Linked DNA regions of Homo sapiens. The protein of the gene in region 7 purifies or fractionates together with the protein of the main gene of each other region. This does not show direct contact. Each region holds a gene or a part of one and is shown on either strand. Other genes may lie near its edges.

Region 1 (2,531 bases), on a different chromosome or scaffold from region 7:
GCCTGGAGCCCAGGCCTGGTGTCTGTGAGCAGAAGCAGAGGCCAGGCAGCCCAAGGTGGGGCAGAGGCGCCGTGGAAGTGGCCCGCACTGTGCCTCTGGGCGGGGGTCTACTCCCTGACCTGGGAACCCATGACCTGGGGAGTGTTGACGTGTTTTTTTTGTCACTGCAGCTTAAGTGGTGAAAACTTATAAAAGCTGGGAGGAACTTGTGGGCTGCAGGACAGCAGGTTTGGAGGGGATGCTCGTGGCCTCTGGGTGGCCGCAGGGTGCTTGGAGTGCCAGGAAGATGTGTGGGTGGAAGGAAGGAAGGGGTGCGGTTTACTCCTGTTCCTAGTCCAGGACCAGCTTCAAACTGGCTCTATGGTGTCCCATCTGGTCAGGGCAACACCATCCATCACCACCATGAACCCTTAACTGCCTCAGTTGTGCCCTGTGCAGGCCCTGCCATCTAGAAGGATATCTATGGCTCCGAATGTCAGGAAAAACGCCACACACACAGCTGAGTGAGAAAGGCACAATTTATTGGTTACGCAGACTTCCATCATGGGAATGTGGGGTGCATTCCCTTCTGCATTCACACACACCACTGGATTTAGCTCCCTACATTAATTCTGCTATGTTGAAAAAGCAACATAAGGAAAGACATCACCCATCTATTCTCCTAATAACCAAGGAAGCAGAGCTGAAAGCCACAGAGATAGGAAGAAAAGGCTGCACTATTTCAAGAGCCTGGAACCAAGAGGCCCACCCTCCCTGGCAGCCAGGCTGGAGAGCACGGCTTTCGGGAGCAACAGCAAAGACTCTTCTACCAGCACGATGGAATACATGTTGGGGGGCTTGGCTTAACTGTGGCTGGTGATGGCTGCCCACCTCGAGGAGGGCACAGGGAACCTGGCACAGGCCTTGGCATCTCTAGCCCAAGCTGAGGCCAGATCTCTCCACTGGAGAATAGGAGCTGATTTCCTGCTCCTTCCAACCAAAGAACTGAGAAGCCAGGTAGATCCCTGCTCTCAGCCTAGCCATGCCGGAACCCGCGGGACTTTAGCTAAAGCAGCTTGTGTCACTGAAGCTGGACAGAACAGGCTTCTTGTACCCTAAACAAGCTACCCAGACTCTTCAGCTCCTTAAGGCCGAGCCCTTGTCTCACTCCAGGAGGGCACTGGGCTTCTTAATGCTTTCACCCCTCCGAACACACACCGTTTTAAACTGGTGGGTTTGGGCACGTGGTTTTAGGTGGCTAGAGCCTCAGCTCTCGAGGTCATCCTGATATGACGAATGTTCGTAAAGCACTTAGCACAGCACTTGGCACATCATGAGTGTTCGATCCATGTGGCCATTATTATTATTAATATTATTATTATCTATATCTCCACCCTCAAATCGGCGCTGCAGTTCCTTTCTTCAGAATGGCGCCCTCAACGAGGCACTGGGGTCCCAAGTACCAAGAGCGAGCTGGGGACCCAGACTGTTTGTTGCCCGTCTGGTGTGCGTTTTTCTTCCAGCCTCAGCACTTGGTGCTAAGTCTCACAGGCAGTGAACTCTGTGGGCCACACAGAAGCTAGGCCCTTTCCTGAAAACACAAAGCCTTGCATAGGAAGCTGGGCAGGAGGAGCCAGCAGGAGGTCCCGGGAGAGGGTCCAGTGGCTTCACGCCGTTCCTCTGGGCTCCCGACTCAGTGGCAGCTCACTGAGGGCTTCACTGTGGGACAAGAACAGAAGGGCTGTCAGGGCTCATTCTCACCAGGCCATGTTGAACTAAGTGGCCCAGGTCCCTGCATGCTGTGGGCTAGGCCAGGCTTCCTTTAACGTGTAGCTGAGAAGAGCCAGCACTCACTGCTCTAAGTACTTTACCTGCTTATTTAAAAAAATTGTTTTTTAGAAATGGGGTCTTACTCTGTTGCCTAGTCTGGAGTGCAGTGGTGCAATCATAGCTCACTGCAGCCTTGAATTCTTGGGTTCCAGCTAGCCTCATGCCTCAGCCTCCCCAGTAGCTGGGACTACAGGTGCATGGCACCACACCCAGGTACGTACCATATATATATATAAAATATATACACATATGTAATATGTATAGTATATATATATGAAATGATATGTAATGGATATCAATGTAAATACATAAATATAAATATATAATTTCTATATAGATGATAATACATGGTAATAATACATAATAGCCTACAATGCAATTCTCCTTCTAAGTCTATGAGGTAGGTACTATTAACAGCCCCTTTTTACAGATGGGTAAACTGAGGCTCAAGGCACAGAGCCAGGAGGTGGGAGGGCTGGGATTCAAATCCAACATAGCCTGACTGTTCTCTTTTTTGAGATGGAGTCTCACTCTGTCGCCCAGGCTGGAGTGCAGTGTTGCGATCTCGGTTCACTGCAACCTCCGCCTCCTGGGTTCAAGCAATTCTCCTGTCTCAGCCTCCCGAGTAGTTGGGATTACAGGTGCACACCACAATGCCCAGCTAATTTTTGTATTTTTAATAGAGACAGGGTTTCACCATATTGGTTAGGCTGGTCTTGAAC
Region 2 (3,500 bases), on a different chromosome or scaffold from region 7:
TTTTTTATTGCTGTGTTGATTTCTTACATTTTAAAATTCTCTTGGTTCATAATTTTTTTTAAAGTCAGCCTTACACGTGCCATGAAATTTACCCTTTTTAGTGTGCAACTCTGAGTTTCCACAAAGATACACAAGGTCTTGCAAGCACCACCATAGTCAAGATACAGAACATTTTCAATACCTTCAAGTTCATGAATTTGTAAGCAGTCTGGATAGCATTATTAATGTTGCTGTGATCTGTCAAGATATTAATACTTGGTTCAGAAAAGGGAGAAAAATTACTTTTCTTCAGTGTAAACATTCAAACTGTAGAAGTTTTTGTGGAATATAGAGTGAAATACTTCTATATGTCTAAATAATAACTATAAAAATGATGTGAATATTTATTATTAAAGAATCAAAATTTTAAAAAACTTTTTTCCCTCTCCAACAGGTATTCAGAAACGTGAAGCCAGCAATTGTTTCGCAATTCGGCATTTTGAAAACAAATTTGCCGTGGAAACTTTAATTTGTTCTTGAACAGTCAAGAAAAACATTATTGAGGAAAATTAATATCACAGCATAACCCCACCCTTTACATTTTGTGCAGTGATTATTTTTTAAAGTCTTCTTTCATGTAAGTAGCAAACAGGGCTTTACTATCTTTTCATCTCATTAATTCAATTAAAACCATTACCTTAAAATTTTTTTCTTTCGAAGTGTGGTGTCTTTTATATTTGAATTAGTAACTGTATGAAGTCATAGATAATAGTACATGTCACCTTAGGTAGTAGGAAGAATTACAATTTCTTTAAATCATTTATCTGGATTTTTATGTTTTATTAGCATTTTCAAGAAGACGGATTATCTAGAGAATAATCATATATATGCATACGTAAAAATGGACCACAGTGACTTATTTGTAGTTGTTAGTTGCCCTGCTACCTAGTTTGTTAGTGCATTTGAGCACACATTTTAATTTTCCTCTAATTAAAATGTGCAGTATTTTCAGTGTCAAATATATTTAACTATTTAGAGAATGATTTCCACCTTTATGTTTTAATATCCTAGGCATCTGCTGTAATAATATTTTAGAAAATGTTTGGAATTTAAGAAATAACTTGTGTTACTAATTTGTATAACCCATATCTGTGCAATGGAATATAAATATCACAAAGTTGTTTAACTAGACTGCGTGTTGTTTTTCCCGTATAATAAAACCAAAGAATAGTTTGGTTCTTCAAATCTTAAGAGAATCCACATAAAAGAAGAAACTATTTTTTAAAAATTCACTTCTATATATACAATGAGTAAAATCACAGATTTTTTCTTTAAATAAAAATAAGTCATTTTAATAACTAAACCAGATTCTTTGTGGATACTATTAAAGTAACATTTAAGCCTCAACCTTGAATGATGTTGTTTAATATAAAATGCTTTTATTTTTGATGGAAAGGCAATCAAAGCCTAAAGTTTCCAAGGAACGTAAAATAACTGTGCTTCTCTGAGAATGCCCGCCTCACAAGTGGAACATTTTGAGTTAATAATGATGATTTTTATGTTTCTAAGGTTGCTTCCTCTCTGAAATAATTCAGAATCCACCCCCATTTAATAAAATACCTATGATTCATTTCACCTCAAGTTCCTAAGACAAAAAATTTCAATTCTGACTTTAGGAGGTCAGAGTTTTTAAAGCTTCCAACTCTTAAAGGATTTAGTCTAGAAACCAATTCTAATTCAAAAGGATATTATTTACTCATGGCTTTTCATTTCATTTCAGTAATATTGTCAGAACTTTAAGTCAGTGAGTTGGGTATTCAGGAATTAACAATTTTAGAAGACAATATGTTTCAATAAAATGAGAATTGGTTTTTCCTACTTTCCAGGCTCTAAAATTACATGAATTTTCAGGGAGCTGTGAACATTTAGGAGCACATTATTCATTCAGCATCTTTTATATGCCCAACATATGATATTGTGTTGAAGATATATCTGCAAAGAAGAAAAAAAGCCACTGCCGTCGTGGAGACTCACAATCTAGGAAAAGAGAGGGACAGCAAACAACTCATTACAATACATTGGGATCAGTAGTGTGAGGGAGAAAAACAGGTCTAGGTTCTTTGGAAAACATTTAGGAGAGTCAATGAGACTTTCAGAATGTGAAGTGCATGGGATTAGGTCATGGAAGAAGACCATGTATGTCATCTTGAGGACTTCATTCTGTAGACCATGGGCCACTATTGAAGTTTTGCATTTTGGAAGGAGCTTATTAGTTTGTTTTCCTGTTGATTATAGTAGTAATGCAGTATCAGGGTAGCTGAACTGCAATAATAATCCCAACATCTCACTGGCTTCATGCAGTAGGAATATGCTTTCATCACAGTCCAGTATGGCAGGCAACCTCCAGACTCCCAGGGACCCAAACTTACACTTTACTAAATGTAATTCTTTCATTTGAATTTTTAAAGGTTTTTGTATAATCATCTTAGTAAAACATTTGATAATTCTTCACAACATTTGCAATCATTGATTTGGCCAGATTGGTCTAACATGGTACCCATGATTTTACTTCATTTCCAGTACTATTCTGATAATTTCCTTTAGAGTCAATTGAGTAGAGAGTACCCCTCTCACCTAAGCTTAGTCATGTCCCAGGAATTTTGGAACTCCAACTGAGATTTCAGGCTCATTATTCATTCTAGGGCTGAATGAATAATGTGCCCTTTGAACCCTTGTGCCATGCTGGAAACTGTGGTCTTGGTGTGGCATGGAAAAACCAGAGGGTGAGGGATGTGGATGAGAAGATGACAGAGAATCAGACATGCAGAGAGGACTGCCAGGTCTCCCAGTGGGTTCCAGGGAGACTCAGCTATCCTTCCCTCTTCTTGAGTTCTGTCTTAGTCCATTCGGGCTACTATAACAAAATACCATAGACTGAGTGGCTTTAAACAACAGAAGCTTGTTTCTCACAGTTCCAGAAGCTGGAAAGTTCAAGATCAAGTCACCTGCAGATTCAGTGTCTGATGAGGTCCTCCTTCCTCACAGAAAGCTCTCTTCTCTCTGTGACCTTATATCACAGATGACTCTGGGTTCCTCTTACAAGGACACTAGTTCCATTCATGGGGGTTCCACTCTCATGACCTAACACCTCTCAAAGGCCCCATTTCCTAATACTGTCACCTTGGGGGTAAGGATTTCAACATGAATTCTGGGGGGACACAAACATTCAAACCATAGCAAGTTCCATAATGCACCCCATCATATGTGTGTGTGTGTGTATTTATTTATTTATCTAAGATAGCTCTAGTTTGCTGCTTTGCAACACATTCTGCCCCTATTGCATTGGTTTAAAAAAAAAGTACAGAAGTCAAGATGAGACTATATAAATCTTGACAAGTTGTTGGCCGTGATTGCTCTTTTGTGATGCAGGAGTGAGAATCTGGAGAATCTGGCTTAAGAGGTGGCTGAGAATTAAAATAATAGGCATGAAAATGCTTCATACAGCTCTGTACAGTTGTTGA
Region 3 (3,500 bases), on a different chromosome or scaffold from region 7:
TACCTTGAACTCCAGACACCTACATTCACTTATTGTTGAGCACACACTTACTGGGTTCCTACTATATGCTGGGTGCTAAGGATAGAAAAGCAGATATTTTATGTCTAAAGAAGTTACCAGCCTATCACTGACATATCCCCTAGGTCTTCAAATTCATTATGTACAAATTCACTCCTCTTCTTCTGTTTTCCTTCTCACTGGCTAGTCACTCAGGACAGATATTTTGGAGCCTCTTTACTCTCATGTCATTTGCCTCTCTTTCCTGATAGGGTAAGAAATCCTCTTGGTTCTACTTCCTTGGTATCTCCCTCAGCTCTAGCCTTCCTCTCTCTATCTCCGTTAGCAGTGTCTTAGTTCACGCTTTAATGTCTCTCACCTAAATCCTTTCAGTGGACTCCTATTTTCCCTCCTCCAGTCCTGCTATACCTTTCTGATCCGTTATTAAAGTTTCCCATGTCAGAAAGAACTCGCATGTAAGCATAGCCTGCCACTGGGAAAGCCAGCAAAGGCTTCGCTTACCAGGGAGCAGTATGACATCAAATCAACAGACTTCATTTCTGAAATTAAATTCATTGCTCTTTTCCTTTTCTTTTTAAACTATTTTTTTTTTTTTTTTTGAGATGAAGTCTTGATCTGTTGCCCAGGCCAGAGTACAGTGGCACGATCTTTCAGCTCAATGCAACCTCCACCTCCAGGTTCAAGCAATTCTCTTGCCTCAGTCTCCCAAGTAGCTGGGGTTACAGGTGCCTGCCACCACACCCGGCTAATTTTTGTATTTTTAGTAGAGAGTGGGTTTTGCCATATTGGCCAGGCTGGTCTCGAACTCCTAGACTCAAGTGATCCATCCACCTCAGCCTCCCAAAGGCTGGGATTACAGGCATGAGCCACCACGCCCAGCCCTCCTTTCCATTTTTAAAAGATCTGTTTCTATATATGAACCTGTATTTATATGTACATTTATAGAGAGAAATACAAGATAATCATATAAAGAATACTGGAAGATTCTCTACCAAAAGTTAACTGGTTCTCTAGGAATTATGGATTATGTATTTTTTGTTTATCTAAATGTATATTTTTCTGATTTCTCAAACTTGTCTACAGTGGACATTAATTTTATAACATGAAAAAAATGTCTTTTTTTAAGTAAAAATTAAAAAATTCATTGAAAAATTGAAAAACACCAAAAAGTAGAGAGAAGTAATATGTCACAAATTCTGCTGTTTCAGTTGTCTGTTGCTGTATAACAACCCACACCAGAACTTAATGGCTTAACACAGTAACTATTTATTATTTCTCATAATCCTGGAGTCAGGAATTCAGGCCCATCTCCACTGAGCAGTTCTTGGTTGGTGTCAGATGAAGCCACTCACTCATCTGCAGTCAGCTGGTAGCTGGGCTGTACTACATGGTCCAAGAAGTCCTCTCTTGAGTTTGTGATGCCTCATTGCTCCTCCATGTGGCCTCTCCCTGTCTTTCTGGAGTGCCTCATTATTCATTTGTTGGTTTGAGCTGCACTGGCCCACAGCCCAGATGGGAGCTGCCAGGCATGATAGAGCTGCCCAGAATTGGCATGGCTTCTCTTGGTTAAGGCAAGTTGCCTGGCCAGACCAAAGTCAAGGGGAGGGGAAAAGGATTCTACCTCTGGATGGATGGAGCCATATGCACATACAGAGAGGGAAGAAATTGATGGCAGCCATCTTTGGGGCCTGTTGCTCCCATCTAAGAAACCACTGTTAATATTTTTGCATTTTTTTTTTTCACAGATGTAAAGATTTCATTGTTTTGGTAGATTTTGCTTTACATTGTTATAGTTATTGCTGTGTAATTATTTTCTAAATATAAATATTTTCATGTTAATCATATCCTTAGGAATCATAGTTTAATGGCAATACAGTATTTATTATATGTTAGGTATTTTCATCAACTATGCCCATATTGTTGGACATTGAAGTTTTTTCTAATATTTCACCAGTATAAATAATGTCATGATGAGAAACTCGCTGCATAAAACTTACTCTTTGTTTCCTTTTGGGGATCAGGGGGTATGAACTTTTTAAAGTTTATCAATATATAACTGTCAGATTATTTTCCAAAAGTGTTATGCTAATTTAAAGTCACACTGTATCTACAAACTTAATTCCGTATTTCAGTTTCACAAAGTTAAATCATTTCCCTTTGGCATGTTTTCCTCTCATTTTACTACACAAAGCTATTCAATGTTTATAAGAGTAGTAAAATGAGATAAATATCCTGAACACTCTTTCTACTCTTATTTTTATCATAAATATTCAAAGTATGACTTAGTTCCTTTACTGATGCTAATAAATCTCTACCCAGTTGCTGACCTTTTCCCTCTCTACTTGTAGACAGCCGGACAAGTGGAAAGATGGGTAGATCCAAGGCTCCACCAACATGTTCTCTTTCTCCCTGAGTCAGGCAGCCCGTGGCTGGGAAAGGAGAGTCACGAGCTGAAACATAAGCTTTTTATTGAGCCAAAAATGGGGAGCATCTTAATACCCTCGTTATGTTGACCAAATGCTGTTTGGTTTATTGAGGGATTTTAGACCCTCTTGAACATTTCTTGTCCAGAAGGCAATTCATTATCTCAGTGACTTTCTAGCACTTTTATTAATGTGAATGTCATTTAGCATGTTAATGTCAAATCAGAAACTTTTTTTTTGCTTTCTTTTGCTTTTAATCTGGCACAAGTTTCTCATGAGAATATTTACTGAAATATGTTGATTTTTGAAGATGTTTTCCTTAGCATGCCTTACGTTTTATAAAGATTTATATGTTGAAGACTTGTGTGCCAGGCACATCATCTCATTTAATCTTCACAAAAAAACTGAGTTGGGTTCTCTTCTTCCTTCCATTTTACAGATGAGGAGACGGAAGCACAGAGTAGTTAATTAATTTGCTCATCATCACACAAGTAGAAGAGCTAGGATTTGAATGATCAGTTTGGATTCAGAGCCTGAAAACCCTTAACCACTATCCTATATTGCCTTCCAAAAACTTAATTTATAAGTGTTGTAATGAAGCAATGAATATTATTTATAACTTCTTTTTTTTTTTTTTGAGATGGAGTCTCGCTCTGTCGCCCAGGCTGGAGTGCAGGGGTGCTATCTCGGCTCACTGCAAGCTCCGCCTCCTGGGTTCATGCCATTCTCCTGCCTCAGCCTCCCAAGTAGCAGGGATTACAGGCGCCCGCCACCACGCCCGGCTAATTTTTTTTTTTTTTGTATTTTCAGTAGAGACGGGGTTTCACCATGTTAGCCAAGATGGTCTCGATCTCCTGACCTCATAATCCGCCTGGTTCGGCCTCCCAAAGTGCTGGGATTACAGGTGTGAGCCACTGTGCCCGGCCTATTTGTAACTTCTATAAGTGGATAATGAAATGTATCAAAGTACACCTCATCATTCTATTATGGTATCATTGTAGTATATGCATTTAGAATAGACTAGCGTAATACTACTCTGACTCCTCGATGATTTTTAGC
Region 4 (3,981 bases), on a different chromosome or scaffold from region 7:
GGGGGGCGGGCCTGGAGCCGCGGCTGGGGGCGCGGGGGGCCGGGGGCCCGGGCTCATCGCCGCCCGCGGAAGCCTCGTGCTACCCTGGAGGGACGCGTGGACGCGGCGCCTGCGGAGGCTGCAGCGACGCGAACGGCGGGGGCGCTGCAGCGCCGCCTGAGCCCGCCGGCTGGGCAGGGCGGCCGCTGCTCCCACATCTAGGCGCACGTTCACCCTGTGCCTTCGCCTGCCAAGGAGTCCTTGCTCGCGTCGCGCGTGTCGCCACCTGGGCCGCCGCCCCGTCCCCGCCGGCAGCTCCCTCGGTACCTCCCGTCTGGCCCTGGGGGGATGTGACCGGCGCAGCGACAGCCCGCCCCGCACAGAGGCAGATGATATGGCACACCCGGAGGACCCCATGGTCTCCCGCCCTCTGGCTGTCGGCCCTGTCCCAGGGGCACTGGGATACCCGGAAGGCTGTGAATCCTTCGTGATGCCGGGCCCTCTCGGGGATCTCAGATCATCCCCGGGGCCGCTGTGATGCACCCCCACCTGTGCGGCGACCCGCCAGGGAGCGCACTGACCTCCCCAAAGACTGTGGCCACCGCAGGCGCCTTGGACCCCCATGGGGGGACAGGGCGTCCCCTGCCTCCTGCAGCCCCACGAGGGCGGCGGCCTTGGCCCCTGCGGGCTGGGCGTCCGCGTCCGGGCGCCCCGCGGCGTCTGCTGCCGGGTCCCGTAACTTTCTTGGCCGCCTGTGTCCCCGTCTGCCGGCTCCGTCCGGCCGTCCCTCTCTCTGCCGCGTCTCTGACCCTCGGCGCCACAGCTCCTCAGCTCAGGGCCCGTCCCAGAACCTCCTTCCAGCCCTTCTCCCCCGACTCGGGAAGGGACGTCGTGCCCACGCGGTTCCGGATCCACGCGTGACCCGGCCGGACCGCGACTCCGACAGGCGGCTGTCCGGGCCCCCGATGCCCTCGGCAGGGCCGTGCCACCCCCCGCCCCCCTTGGCTTGTCCCCCCGGGACCGCACTGCCGTTGCCTCCTCTCCGCACGGGACCGGTTCCCGGCCGGCCCCAGCTTCCGCCGCTGCGGCCGCCGACCGTCAGCGCGCATGCCCAGAGCCGGGCAGGCCGGAGCCCCGCGGGCTCTCCGGGGTGGGCACAGGGCGACAGCTCGGCGGGGGCGGGGCCGAGCACGCGCGTGCGCAGAAAGGCCGGCGCGGCAGGCTGAGGAGAAAGCGGCGCGCGGAGGTGGGTGCGCTCGGGGCGTGCGGGGGGCGCGCGGCGGGGTGGCGGGTGGCGGGGCCGGGTCCCCGCTGTCACCGCGGTCGGCGCGTGCTGGGGGCGGGAGCGTGGGGGCCGGGCTGCGGGCCCCATTCGAGGCGGGGATCCCCGGCCACGCGCGGGTTGGGGGCTCCAGAGCCCGGCACCGCCCGGCGCTGCAGCTGCGGCTTGGCCTACGGGAGGGGGCGCAGGAGCGGGACCCCCTGGGCGCGAGGCCCGATCCCCGCCCGGTCGCTGGCCCGCGGCCCGGCCCAGGGCATGGTGTCGTCTGGAAGAGTGACTGTGTCACTGTTTCCTTGGGGCGCTTTCCGTCTCCGCAGGGTCGGAAATCCTCTTGGGGGCTCGGTGAGATTGCAACAGATTCTGATACGCCCTGCCCTGTGGACCTGCAGCGGCCCCGGGCCCCGCCCCGCCCCGCCCAGGGATGACACACGCCCCCACCGACCACCCGCTTGGGGGTCCGCCAGCCCCCGGCCCTGTCCAGTGGGGGGCCCCTCTGGGTGCGCCGTGCCAGGCGGCCGCTGTCCTTCGGGCCCTGGGAGGTGGAAGCCAGGGACTCCCAGCCCTGAGCCAGCACAGCGGAGGGGAGAGCCGGCCCCACCTGGGCTGGGCTGCACCTGTTCCCGCCCCCTCCAGGCGGGAGTCCCCGCGGCCTGGCCACAGGCCTTCTTTGATGGCCGTGCCCCGCAGGGAAACGCGCTGTGGCCCCCGGGTTACTGCTTGCGGGGGTGATATTAAAGGTCAAAGGTTGTCTAAAAGCCACCTGGGTGGTGTGGAGGTGCAGGTGGGCTGTTAGGTTGGTGGCTGTGGTTGTGAAGCCGATGTCACTGTCTTTACCCAGCAGCTTATTCCAGAAAGGGGGCGTCAGCCTGCCCTTCCAGTGCCGATAGAAGCACTAGCGGGTGATTTTTCCCTGTTTTGCTGTGTTTGCTCTGGAGTCACCAGGTGACTTCCAGGCAGTGTGCAGAAGGAACCGTCCCATTATTTGGCACGTGGGCCGTTTCCTCCACCCGAGGTCCAGGGCTCCGTCTTCACAGTCTGTCCTCAGCACACAGTAGGCACCTGTAGATGGCACACGTGGCGTTTCCTCCGCCCGAGGGCCAGGGCTCTGTCTTCAGCACACAGTAGGCACCTGTAAATGTTTGCTCAGTTGCGGCGAAGACAAGCAGTCAGGTTCTTTTCATTTTAAGGAACACACACTGGGAAAAAAAACCAATCCAGATTAGAGAAGATCAGAAAATCTTACGAAGATTTTACAGTTACTGTTCCTAGCCTGTGGCGTGACCCCTGCGTGCACCGCCTTTTATTCTGAGGGTTGATCCTCATCTAATCTGAACACTCAGATAGAGGCTTTACATGGAGGACTTATTGGGGAGTGCTTGCTCTACTTAGAAGCCTGTCTTTCCCTGTGAAGAGGGCGGGAGCCACGCTGTTCATCTTTGCTTCCCCACAGCCTGGCCAGGGCCGGACCAGAGGTTTTCTCTACATGATGGTTGAAGTGGATCAAGGTCCTTTTGTCGGAGTGATAGATGTCAACTATTGCAGTGGCTTTCCACTGGGTTGAGGGTGACCTTCCGAGATGCAGAAGTAATCTAGGCAAGGTTTTCATAACAACAATAAATTTGGCCACCCAGGGTCTGTGAAGTCACCTGTAGGGTAGCCTTACTAGCTCTCGCTGACCACACCTGCCAGGAGTGTCCAGCAGGCTCGAGTGACCTTGGGCATGCAGTGTTGCTCTTAATTATCTACAGATTGAGCCAAGCTCAGAAAACATATTAAATGTTTGCCTTTAGATGGTTTCTGGTTTAAAGTACATAAGGACAATGAAGCAGGTTACAAAAAAAGCACTTAACATTTACCCTGTTCAATGTTTTACCTGTCTGAGCATACCTTTTCTGTTATGACAACTCTGTAAATGGAAGAAAGAAGTCCTTTTCAACTCAAAGCAGCAATTTCAGTGGCTGTTTCAAACATTGCCTTTCAATTGGAGATAAAATCAAAGAAACAAAACCTCAGGCTTTTTACTGAGGACCAACTTGAATTCATTATTCAATGATTTTCTGTATCCTTTCAACATGTGTTTGTTAAGCGAGGTGCGGTGGCTCACGCCTGCAATCCCAACACTTTGGGAGGCTGAGGTGGAAGGATCGCATGAGCCCAGGAGTTCAAGACCACCTTGGGCAACATAGGGAGGTCTCGTCTCTATAAAAAATTAGCCAAGTATGGTGGCATGTGCCTGTGGTCCCAGCTACTTGGGAAGCTGAGGCAGAAGGATCACTTGAGCCTGGGAGCTCAAGACTGCAGTGAGCTGTGATTGTGCCACTGCACTCAAGCCAGGGCAACAGAGTGAGACCCTGTCTCTGAAAAACAAAACAATAAAAATGCATTTATTGAATTCACACTTCATAGGAGGCACCATGCCGTGTGTTCTGTGGATTTGGTGTTAAGACTTGGTCTCTGCCCTTGAGCTTATAGTGCAGTGAGGAGACAGGAGAATAAACACATGGTAGAAGCTCCCACAGAGGTGGACAGAGCCTTCTGTGGGCGCAAAGGCGTGGCATCCAGCTGGATTGTGGTGGGGGTGGGGCTCTGAGATGGACTTGAGCTTCATTTTGAAGGATGATCAGGACCGGCAAGAACAAGTGAGGGAAAGTGCCTTCCCCCGAAGGGACAGTGGATATAAAGTGACAGGCGTGGTTCCTGCCCACCAGCTCTTGGGAGAA
Region 5 (3,500 bases), on a different chromosome or scaffold from region 7:
GGGCAACAGAGCAAGACTCGGTCTCAAAACAAAAAAAAAAGCCGGGTGCGATGGCTCACGCCTGTAATTCCAGCACTTTGGGAGGCCAAGGCGGGGGGATCACCTGAGGTCTGGAGCTCGAGACCAGCCTGACCAACACGAAGAAACCCTATCTCTACTAAAATTACAAAATTAGCAGTGTGTGGTGGTGCATGCCTGTAATCCCAGCTACTCAGGAGGCTGAGGCAGGAGAATCGCTTGAACCCGGGAGGCAGAGGTTGCGGTGAGCCAAGATCGCACCATTGCACTCCAGCCTGGGCAACAAAAGCAAAACTCAAAAAACAAACAAAAAACTATACTTCATGGCTGGGTGTGGTGGTTCAAGTCTGTAATCCCAGCACTTTGGGAGGCCGAGACAGGTAGATCGCCTGAGGTCAGGAATTCGAGACCACCCTGGCCAACAAGGTGAAACCACCTCTACTAGAAACACAAAAAATTAGCCAGGTGTGGTGGCGCACACCTGCAGTCCTAGCTAGTTGGGAAGCTGAGGCAGGAGAATCGCTTGAACCTGGGAGGCAAAGGTTGCAGTGAGCTGAGATCGCACCACTGCACACCAGCCTGGGCGTTAGAGCAAGACTCAGTCTCAAAAAAACAACTATACTTCTTAAAAATACCTTATCTTTTGATGTAATAATTCCATTTTAGAATCCAAATAAAATCTGGGGAGAGGGAATAAATTCCATTCATTTTATATGTATCTATTTAGAAAAAATAAAACTTCAATTCTTGATTAAAGTAAAAGGTGATCATCTAACAGTCATGTTCATTTAGTTATTATTCATATCAAGTAATATCCATGTGACATAAATCCACAGTATAAACAACTTGATCACTGACTTAAATTTTAGAGCATATATAAACTGTTTAATTCTAGGCCGGGAACAGTGGCTCATGCCTATAATCCCGGCACTTTGGGAGGCCAAGGCAGGAGGATCATTTCATGCCAGGAGCTTGAGACCAGCCTGGGCAACATAGCGAGACCCTCATCTCTATAAAAGAAACAAAAAACCAGTTAATTCCCCGTTTCTTTTCAGTGGTACTACTGAAGGCTGTTTCAGAACCGCAAAGCTGTTGGGAGATCCGAAGTGTATTTTGTAGGTTATCCTCCATATGACATTTATACAGCAACACAGCACTTCAGAGATAACCTAAGTCCAAAAATGTAACTGGTCACAGAACACTGCCCCAAGAAAATGGGGCAGAGGTTTAAACTTTTAGCTCATACAACTATAAACTTGTTAAGATTTAAAAACTACAAAGTAAGAGTCACACTGCACTTCCCAATCCAACAACTATAAACGTGGTAAAAAGAGAGAACTCACCACAATGAATACTAAGAATAATGAATATGGTAAAGAGTGGTCTATGTGGTTAAAAATTTAAAAACCTCTTTTTGTGGAAACTTACCAATCCAGAAACAGTGTTAACCACATCTAATGATTTAATCTTGGAGGTCGAATTTTTTTTAATTAAAAAATTGCTTAAAATGTTTGCATATTTCATAATAAAATCTTCTTTAAAAGATCTACTTAGTAAATCATGAAAACACTCCTCCAAATGATTTATGGCAATAATGAATCCAAATGACTCATTAGAAGACGGCATGAATAAGAAATATCTGTTTGAGCAGGACAAAAAGAAAAATAAAAACAGGAGGCACCAGGACCACCAAGTCCTGACAGATGCCAATCACCACCAACGTCCAGTGAGCTAGGGCAAACAGACAACCAGAATGAGTATAATAAATGTTACTGTATGCTTTCAACAGGGCATTCTAGTGTTAAGGCCAGGAATAATGCCAGAATGAAAACTTCTCTAGGAAGTTATAAATTTTGATAGATGCAGGATCACAGCTGCTCTGATACTAGACTTTCAAACATTTGCCAAGGAGAGCATATCAGAAACAAGAAACTTTAATTAGCTCTTGGGGGAGAAAAATCGCTCAACTTGAAGAGTAACTATGACCTTTCCAAAAGGTCAGTGAGGCATTAGCAACTGTAAGATAAGCTTCACACCTTGTTAAAGTGGGTATGAATTTCCCTCTTGGCAGTAAAGCCTGGGGAACAAACTTAAAGCAACATCCCCTGATAGCTAGAGCAAAGGGAAAGACAATGGCAAGCAGTGATGGGACCATCAGAGCAAACCTCTACTTTAAAATACTACAGCCCAAAATGAAGAACAACCATATCAGATCATGTCGGGCAGTCCTTCACAGTTCTGATCTATTGGTAAGAAAACCTCTTGCCTTGTGTAAGGAGAAAGAGGATTGACAACAGAAACCATGAGACTGGGAGGGAGATGGGGTAAGAGAAAGGGGAGGAAAACTGGATGAGTGACATTACTGAAACGCAAGATCCCTTACTGCAGTATTATAGTACTATAGTAATGTGAGTTCATAATTATGGTTTGCCAGAAGTTATACAAAGTATACTTATACAAGGAACTGGGAAAATGTTTCTAAAAATTTTGACAACAGGTTGAATATAAAGAATTATCTGTTTCAAGCCAGGAGCAGTGGCTCACACCTGTAATCACAGCACTTTGGGAGGCTGAGGTGGGCAGATCACCTGAGGTCAGGAGTTCAAGACCAGCCTGACCAACATGGCGAAAACCCATCTCTACTAAAATACAAAAAATTAGCCGAGTGTGGTGGTGGACGCCTGTAATCCCAGCTACTGGGGAAGCTGAGACAGGAGAATCGCTTGACCCCGGGAGGCAGAGGTTACAGCGAGCCGAGATCGCGCCATTGCACTCCAGCCTGGCTGACAAGAGCAAAACTCCATCTCAAGGAAAAAAAAAAAAAGAATTATCTGTTTCAGCTGGGTGAGGTGGCTCATGCCTATAATCCTAATGCTTTGGGAAAATCTCTTAAGGCCAGGAATTGGAGACTAGCTTGAGTAACATAGTGAGACCCTATGTGTATAAAAAAAAATTTTTTTTTAATTAGTTGGGCATGGCAGGGCATGCCTGTAGTCCTGACTACTCGGGAAGATTGCTTGAAACCAGGAGTTTGAGGTTATAATGAGCTATGATCGTGCCACTACTACATTCCAGCCTAGGTGACAGAGTGAGACTCTGCCTCAAAAAAAAAAAAAAAAAAAAAAAAGGGCAAAGCATGATGGCTCACACCTATAGTCCCAGCTACTTGGGAGGCTCAAGAATCAGGCTTCAGCCCAGGTGTCTGAGGCTGCAGTGAGCTATAATCGCACCACTGCATTTACCCGCTGGGCGACAGGAGACCCTATCTCCAGGAAAATTGAAAATTTTAAACAGTGTGTAAAAGGATTATCTGGGCTGGGTGAGGTGGCTCATGTCTGTAATCCCAGCACTTTGGGAAGCTGAGGCAGGCGGATCACCTAAGGCCAGGAGCTGGAGACCAGCCTGGTCAACATGGAGAAACCCCGTCTCTACTAAAAATACAAAAAATTACCCGGGCGTGGTGGTGCATGCCTGTAATCCCA
Region 6 (3,500 bases), on a different chromosome or scaffold from region 7:
AAAAGAGTTGAGGTCTCACTCTGTTACCTAGGCTGGAGTGTAGTGGCGAGATCACAGCTCACTGCAGTCTCAAACTCTTGGGCTCAAGCAGTTTTCCTGCCTCAACCTCAACTTCCTGAGTAGCTGGGACTACAGGTTCCCCACTGCACCCAGAAGATTCAATTTTTAATGGGGCGGGGGGGTGTTATTCTTGTGAATGTGTTTTTCCACATGGTTAGTTGATCTGATGTTTCTGCCAGGGGCATGAGTTTTGGAGAGTCCTAATCCACCGTGTTGCTGACTTCTGTCTTCAAGGGGGATGTTATTAAACGGACCGAGCCTCAGAACCTAAGAGCAGCAATTCCTTGGGAAGGGCTGGAACCAGGAGATAAAACCCACCAGGAAGTCATGAACTCCCACCTGACTCCTCCTCTGCCAGCCTTCCTCCTTTGCATCTTAACTGGGTGCCCTAAAAGTTACCCTAGGCACCAAGCTGTCCTCCACCTGCTTTCTTAGTCCCCCTCCATTCTAGGTGGAAGTGTCTTTTCCTTTGGAGGAAGCGTACTCTTTTCTGTTTGGCCTTAAGGATAGTGCCTATTTTTTTGAGATAGTGTCTCACTTTGTTGCCCAGGCTGGAGTGCAATGGTGCAATCACGGTTCACTGCAGCCTCAACCTCAACCTCCGTGCTCAAGCAATCCTCCCACCTCAGCCTCCCAAGTAGCTGGAACTATAGGCGTGCACCACCATTCTTGGTTAATTTTTTTGTATTTTTCTTGTGATGGGGTTTCACCATGTTGCCCAGGCTGGTCTTGAACTCATGAACTCAAGCAGTCCACCTGCCTTGGCCTCCCAAAGTCCTGGGATTACAGGTGTGAGCCACCATACTCAGCCTAGGGCAGTGTCTTTTTAATTAAAGAAAAAAAAAGTAAGACAAACACATAAAAAAAAGATACAAAGTGAGGGCCAGGCACGGTGGCTCACGCTTGTAATCCCAGCACTTTGGGAGGCTGAGGCAGACGGATCACGAGGTCAAGAGATCGAGACCATCCTGGCAAACGTGGTGAAACCCTGTCTCTACTAAAAATACAAAAAAATTAGCTGGGCGTGGTGGTGCATGTCTTTAGTCCCAACTACTCGGGAGGCTGAGGCAGGAGAATCACTTGAACCCGAGAGGCAGAGGTTGCAGTGAGCCGAGATCGCGCCACTGCACTCCAGCCTGGCGACAGAGCAAGACTCCCGTCTCAAAAAAAAAAAAAAAGATACAAAGTGAATACTACATTTTTCCTTGTCCCTCCCTAATCCCCCTTTTTGAGGTAGTTAGTCCTTATTAACAGTTTTGTGGGCCAGGCCCAGTGGCTCATGCCTGTAATCCCAGTATTTTGGGAGGTCGAAGTGGGAGGATCGCTTGAGGCCAGGAGTTTGAAAGCAGCCTGGGCAACATAGCAAGACCCTGTCTCTACAAAAACTTAAAACAATTTGCCAGGACTGGTGGTGTGCACCTGTAGACCCAGCTACTGTGGAGGCTGAGGCAGGAGGATTGCTTCAACCTGGGAGGTTGAGGCTGCAGTGAGCTAGGATTGCACCACTGCTATTGTCGTTGCTGTTACTTCTGTTACTCCGGTTGTTCTGGCTTGCAGAAAACCTTTCGATGAAGGTAAGGGTAGGAAGCATAAATTCTCTACGAGGTAATGTCCCCTGAGGAGAGAGGTGAAGTGTGAATCTGTGAAGAATCCAGGGTGCCTGTGAGGTCAAGCGAGGATCAACACAAACATTTTCCCAGCATGCGCGACGGCGGGAGAGTTCGTGAGACTTTTGGAAGCACTTCACGCCCTACACTTAGCATTCAGTTTGGTCATCTCATCCCTCTTCTAGGTGCTAGTCACAGGCCCACCCCAACCTCATAGGATGTGTTTGCACACAGGGCCACTTAATAAATGTTATGGCTGCCTTATTTGCTGTGAACTCTTGTCTGTATTCCTGGGCCTTGGTAGACCTGGGATGCCCAGTGGCTCTGCCTTTCACTGTAGGTTTTGAGTGATGAGGTGAAGAGGAAGCAGTACGATGCCTACGGCTCTGCAGGCTTCGATCCTGGGGCCAGCGGCTCCCAGCATAGCTACTGGAAGGGAGGCCCCACTGTGGACCCCGAGGAGCTGTTCAGGAAGATCTTTGGCGAGTTCTCATCCTCTTCATTTGGAGATTTCCAGACCGTGTTTGATCAGCCTCAGGAAGTAAGTTCCTCACTTGGAAGAATTATTCAAATTTTAGACTAAGTATGGGTCAAACAAATTTTTTTATCAGTTTCTGTTTCTCAGAAAGGCAAGGCAGCTTAAATGGAGTGATCTGGAGGCAGCCATTTTAGTAGAAAATAATTTCAGTATTTGAAAAATCGCATAGGTAGTAATGAGTATGTCCATTCTGATGGTATTCTTAACAGTTGCATAATGAGGTAGCACCTAAGGCTTTCAGAGCCCATGAGGGTGTGAGTGTTGTCTCTCATCTGCTACAGTATTCCAGGAGAGTTCTGTCCGGTGGGAAGGCACTGCTGATCCTCTCTCATTTATGTCCTTATAAGACACTGTCAGAGTGGAAGAGAGAGGGGATATATTTATGATCTAAATTATGATTGTGGATCATTCAGGCTGTTTTTAAGTGCCATGTACGAGTATTTATCTGTGAACATTTTCAGTCTGTTGAAAGTACGTTTTCATTTAAGTCATACATTATCTCTTAAAAATCCCAAAGAGTAGGGCAGAATTCGTTCAGTGAGTCCTACCTATGCTTACTTGGCAGAGTGCAAGTAAGTACAGTGGTGAAAGAGTGACTGAAAATGTGGGCCAGTACCCTCCTTTCCCTTTAGAGCCGAGCGTCAGTTTTGGTCGTTGCAAACAAAAGTTGACAGGCTGTCCCTTGGTTTCTTTAGTACTTCATGGAGTTGACATTCAATCAAGCTGCAAAGGGGGTCAACAAGGAGTTCACCGTGAACATCATGGACACGTGTGAGCGCTGCAACGGCAAGGGGAACGAGCCCGGCACCAAGGTGCAGCATTGCCACTACTGTGGCGGCTCCGGCATGGTAAGGCTCTGCCCGAGACTCCACCTCCCACGGCTTGCACCACTGACTGAGAAGAGCTGGTTGTGGCACTGCTCCCAGAGAACGTATGCTGGGAATTGGGGGAGTTGGTGAACTCAGCCTGGCTGTCTTTCCCCCGTGACCCTGAGGAGACGAGCCTGTGCTCCTCTTTCCCTGATACCACAGGCTCAGCAACCAGAGCACAGCAGCTCCGGGGGCGGGGCGGGGGATTGCATCCAGTTGTCACTTTCTTCTTTATTTTTCTAACAATTGCTTTGGTAATTCAAGGGGAAATAATCTTTTTTAAATGTACTGTTCAGCTCCCAGGAGTCTTCAGGTACTTCTGTAGACAGGCGGTATCATATTTTTCAGTGTCGTGTGGTCAAGTTGATGATCTGGAGTGCAGAAGTTTGTGTGTTCTAGAAAATCAGATGAACAGATTGAGGCCCT
Region 7 (3,500 bases):
AAGCAACAATCACTTGCAGTGTATCTGACAAAATGCTATACATGATTTTCTAAAAGTATTTTGATCACTCCAGAAAGAAATCAGAATAAAGCTGCATACCCCAAATCCTAGAAAATTCACAAATATTTTGCTCAAGTTCAGGCTCTCTCAGCTTCTCTTTTCTCTTTAACTTTTGCCTCATACAGAGGCAATCTTGATGACAAAAGATTGGGCTCAATTTTTGTTTTTCTTGTGTAGAAAAGCAACACCTCTGTTTCGGACTACTGTTCAGTAGACAAAAAGCATCCCAGCTTTCGAAATGAGAGTCCAAATTGGGTTACCACTGAGATTTTAAATTATGATGTGAAATTGGAGAAGGTGAACTGTACAGGGCCAGACAAATAATAGAGCCCACTCTCTGGGCAGTTGCATGCAGTCTTGCTGGGTGCTGAGCTGAGAGACTGAGAGCCGCTTTTGAGACGTGTTTTGAGGCATATCTTCCTTAAATTTTTGCTGGTGTCTGTTTTTTAGAAGTTTTGCCATTAGCATTTTTCACTTTGAGTATCTAGCCATGGAGAATGCTCTAAAAAATACAAGGAGACAGGGGGATGCTTTATCTATTTGGCTTAGTCACTGGTTCAGGGTGAAGTTTCATAATTTATTCTGATAATCTGGAGGGGATGACCTCCTTCACAGTACTGTTAAAGCCTTCCTTGAACAAGCTCATTTCACTATATAACTTCCTAAAGACAAGGCTGATTATTTAAGGATTTCAGAGATATCATTTGGGGAATAACTCACCAGGTAGAGAAAGTTTGACCTGATATGTTAACAGGCACAACAAGAACTTATTTCAATGCTTTCTCACCATCTGCCCCTTCTCTGAGAGTTTAGCCTTTCTTAGGATACTTCCTTTTCCAGGCTAGAAAAGATTGATTGTATTCATATCCCAAAGTAAAGGCTCCTCCAATTCTATCAGATGTGGAGGCAACAGAAAATGACTCATGTTATTTTTCTCTCACTTCACAGCATCAAGAACTCTTCTTGTTTATGTGGGGGCCATGGTGGATTAGCTTGAGGAACTGTCAAATTAAAATGAAAGGAAAGCAAGTTGGGGCAAGAAAATTCTCACTCTGAATGTGAAAGAAAATAGCAGTGTTCTTCTCTCTGGCAAAGATTTGTGTACTGTTGGGGGAAGATTCATGTTATTTCTCAGGTAGACTTTACTTTTTGAGATTCTGTGTGTGTGTGTGTGTGTGTGTGTGTATGTGTGTGTGTGTGTGTGTATTTTGCCTGGTGGGGGGTTAAAGGCAGATAGAATGTAGTTGTTTATGAGTTTATACTTTCTCTTTAGCATAATAGATGCCCTGTTTATTTTCTCAGAATGTGACAATAAAATTAGGAAAGGAGAGGAATTCAGAGGCCCATGTTGCAGTTCATGGCAAAGTTTTACCCAAATATTTCCTTCAGAAACATTTAGTCATAGCAAGCCATATAAATTATTGTCTGCAACTGGTATCAGAAAAAGAAATCAGTAGGTGGGGACTGTAGACCCCAATGGTGCATCTGTTTACAATCTTTCTTTTCCAAGGTTTTAAGGTTCATGAATAACATGAGGGAATTTTGGGAGAGCTACCACATCAGTACTTTGGCACGCATTAACTGTTCCACAGGAAAACTAGGGTTGCTTCAGGGCTATTTTTGTTTGAAATGACACACATACAAAAAAAAAAAAAGACTTTTGGAACATGTTTTGAGGCCTGTCACCTGAAATCAGCCTTTGCTGAAAGAGTATTTAGTTTGATAAGCGGGATTTCTTGCTTCTCGCATCCCAGAGTGTAAATTCTGCAGCGAAGCCTGGGTGTATGTTTTCAGCACCAGGGACAGCAAACAACCCCCTGAATTGAAGGGGCCCGCTATCCTGATTGACCTCCCAGACTAGGAAGGGCAGTTGTTTTGTTTTCCTTTATTTCCTATCTACCGGAGCCTCAACTTGGAAGACTTTATTCTTAAGGTTCTTACATCTTTCATTTATTACCAAGCCTAGCTTAGCTGTCTCTGTCACATTCTTGACCTCCTAACAAATGGGTTTGGAGTAACACTCCCAGCTCTCCTGGCTCAGAGAAGTAGAAAGAAACACACTAGACTTCATTTGAAGGGCATGCTTTAGAGTAGGCTCCCCCTACACAAGTCTTTATAACATACCACTGACTTGTAAACCCCTAAATGAAGGACTGCTTATACACAATCATTTTCCTTTTAACATTTCTGCACATTTCTCACAATGTACAAGTCTATGTTTGACTCAGTGTGCATCTGGAGGCAATGTTTCACAGCAGTTGAGCAGAAGCTATGAAGTTTGGGGACAGAAAAGGTCCCAGTGATGCTGCTGTTATTCATTTTGGAGACTCATTGGGGGCACTTCTCTGATTCTCAGCATCCACCCTTCAACCCTGAGTGCTCTTTAACAGCTGTTTTTGCCTTAAACAATCACAATAAGAATGCAAATGACTCCTTGTGGCATTCTTCAGGCCAGACTGAAGGGTGTACTGAGAAAACAAGGGTAGCAGAAGCACATGTTGTCACATTGCTTTGTGATTGGCCAGTTTTTATATAGCACAATGACACACAGATATCATCTTAGAGTCATCATTGTCTACTCTTAACTAATTGTCAGCATCTTCTCCACTCATGTCAGGATGAATCCTGTGTTGGGAAGGCAAGTCAGTCACTGCAGGTTTCATCATAAATATTGCCTTCTATCTGACAGATGTTAGAAAACCTCCATTTTGAATGCCTCTGTACCATCCAAGGCTCTGAATTTCCCCTATATCTTATCCCTTTCTTTCCATTCCCTTTCCATGTTGCTTATCATAACATCCATAACATTTAGTGGTGTAAGAAAATAAGGGGTTTCTTTTAGGAATAAATGAGGTGGAAAAAGTAGGACAGAGCCAGATCTCAGAGGAGCAAGTTCAGTGGAACGATGATTTCTAACTTGGGAGTGGGTCTAAGATGTAGCCATCCATTCCTTCCATTCCTTGTCCTCTTGAGTGAATCTCATTCCAGTGCTCACACTTGCCCTGCAAAAAAGGCCATGGCACAAGATTCTCTAGATTATTTGTATGAAGACTGGAGGTGAGCAGCATCCAACACCTCTGTTAGAGTTCTTTAGAATAGAGGAGTTTTGTCTTATATTTTAATCCAGGAACCTTCCCATATTTAAAAAGTTTAGAAATAATATGTACAGAAAGGACCTATGGGGATAGGAAAGCTTAATAATACAAGTTATTTTCCCTTAGAACAGAGGGGAAGGAGCTGCAAAGTGACTGCTAATGGAGGAACGATCTGCTGGCTGGGGGAAATGTGGCCTGAGACTAGAGATGCAGAGCAGGCATCTCTAGAAGGAGAGATGATGCCAATAGAAGCCCCAGGAGGGAACTGGCCAGCGAATACAATTTTATAAAGATTCTCAGTACTTTTTCTGAAAAAATTCCTAAAATTTTCAAGGGCGCGTCTAG

The links.
Region 1: the proteins of NTRK3 (region 7) and INPP5D purify together in Homo sapiens (affinity purification with mass spectrometry; one large-scale study listed by BioGRID and IntAct). This does not show direct contact.
Region 2: the proteins of NTRK3 (region 7) and ITM2B purify together in Homo sapiens (affinity purification with mass spectrometry; one large-scale study listed by BioGRID and IntAct). This does not show direct contact.
Region 3: the proteins of NTRK3 (region 7) and PTCD2 purify together in Homo sapiens (affinity purification with mass spectrometry; 2 studies listed by BioGRID and IntAct, with this or other methods). This does not show direct contact.
Region 4: the proteins of NTRK3 (region 7) and TBC1D24 purify together in Homo sapiens (affinity purification with mass spectrometry; 2 studies listed by BioGRID and IntAct, with this or other methods). This does not show direct contact.
Region 5: the proteins of NTRK3 (region 7) and ATP2A2 purify together in Homo sapiens (affinity purification with mass spectrometry; one large-scale study listed by BioGRID and IntAct). This does not show direct contact.
Region 6: the proteins of NTRK3 (region 7) and DNAJA3 purify together in Homo sapiens (affinity purification with mass spectrometry; one large-scale study listed by BioGRID and IntAct). This does not show direct contact.

The regions. Positions count from the first base shown.
Region 1 is NC_000002.12:233,205,873-233,208,403, reverse strand, and holds the end of INPP5D (phosphatidylinositol 3,4,5-trisphosphate 5-phosphatase 1), read right to left. Parts: intron 1,699-2,531; coding exon 1,696-1,698; coding exon of another isoform or gene 1,647-1,695; 3' UTR 501-1,646; downstream 1-500. UniProt on the Homo sapiens protein: Phosphatidylinositol (PtdIns) phosphatase that specifically hydrolyzes the 5-phosphate of phosphatidylinositol-3,4,5-trisphosphate (PtdIns(3,4,5)P3) to produce PtdIns(3,4)P2, thereby negatively regulating the PI3K (phosphoinositide 3-kinase) pathways.
Region 2 is NC_000013.11:48,260,706-48,264,205, forward strand, and holds part of ITM2B (integral membrane protein 2B), read left to right. Parts: intron 1-433; coding exon 434-519; 3' UTR 520-3,500. UniProt on the Homo sapiens protein: Plays a regulatory role in the processing of the amyloid-beta A4 precursor protein (APP) and acts as an inhibitor of the amyloid-beta peptide aggregation and fibrils deposition. Plays a role in the induction of neurite outgrowth.
Region 3 is NC_000005.10:72,326,873-72,330,372, forward strand, and holds part of PTCD2 (pentatricopeptide repeat-containing protein 2, mitochondrial), read left to right. Parts: intron 1-3,500. UniProt on the Homo sapiens protein: Involved in mitochondrial RNA maturation and mitochondrial respiratory chain function.
Region 4 is NC_000016.10:2,473,946-2,477,926, forward strand, and holds the start of TBC1D24 (TBC1 domain family member 24), read left to right. Parts: upstream 1-1,181; 5' UTR 1,182-1,225; intron 1,226-3,981. Other genes in the region: NTN3 (netrin-3 precursor), read left to right, coding at 1-160. UniProt on the Homo sapiens protein: May act as a GTPase-activating protein for Rab family protein(s). Involved in neuronal projections development, probably through a negative modulation of ARF6 function. Involved in the regulation of synaptic vesicle trafficking.
Region 5 is NC_000012.12:110,287,747-110,291,246, reverse strand, and holds part of ATP2A2 (sarcoplasmic/endoplasmic reticulum calcium ATPase 2), read right to left. Parts: intron 1-3,500.
Region 6 is NC_000016.10:4,439,368-4,442,867, forward strand, and holds part of DNAJA3 (dnaJ homolog subfamily A member 3, mitochondrial), read left to right. Parts: intron 1-2,007; coding exon 2,008-2,208; intron 2,209-2,900; coding exon 2,901-3,053; intron 3,054-3,500. UniProt on the Homo sapiens protein: Modulates apoptotic signal transduction or effector structures within the mitochondrial matrix. Affect cytochrome C release from the mitochondria and caspase 3 activation, but not caspase 8 activation.
Region 7 is NC_000015.10:87,861,740-87,865,239, reverse strand, and holds part of NTRK3 (NT-3 growth factor receptor isoform a precursor), read left to right. Parts: 3' UTR 1-3,500. UniProt on the Homo sapiens protein: Receptor tyrosine kinase involved in nervous system and probably heart development.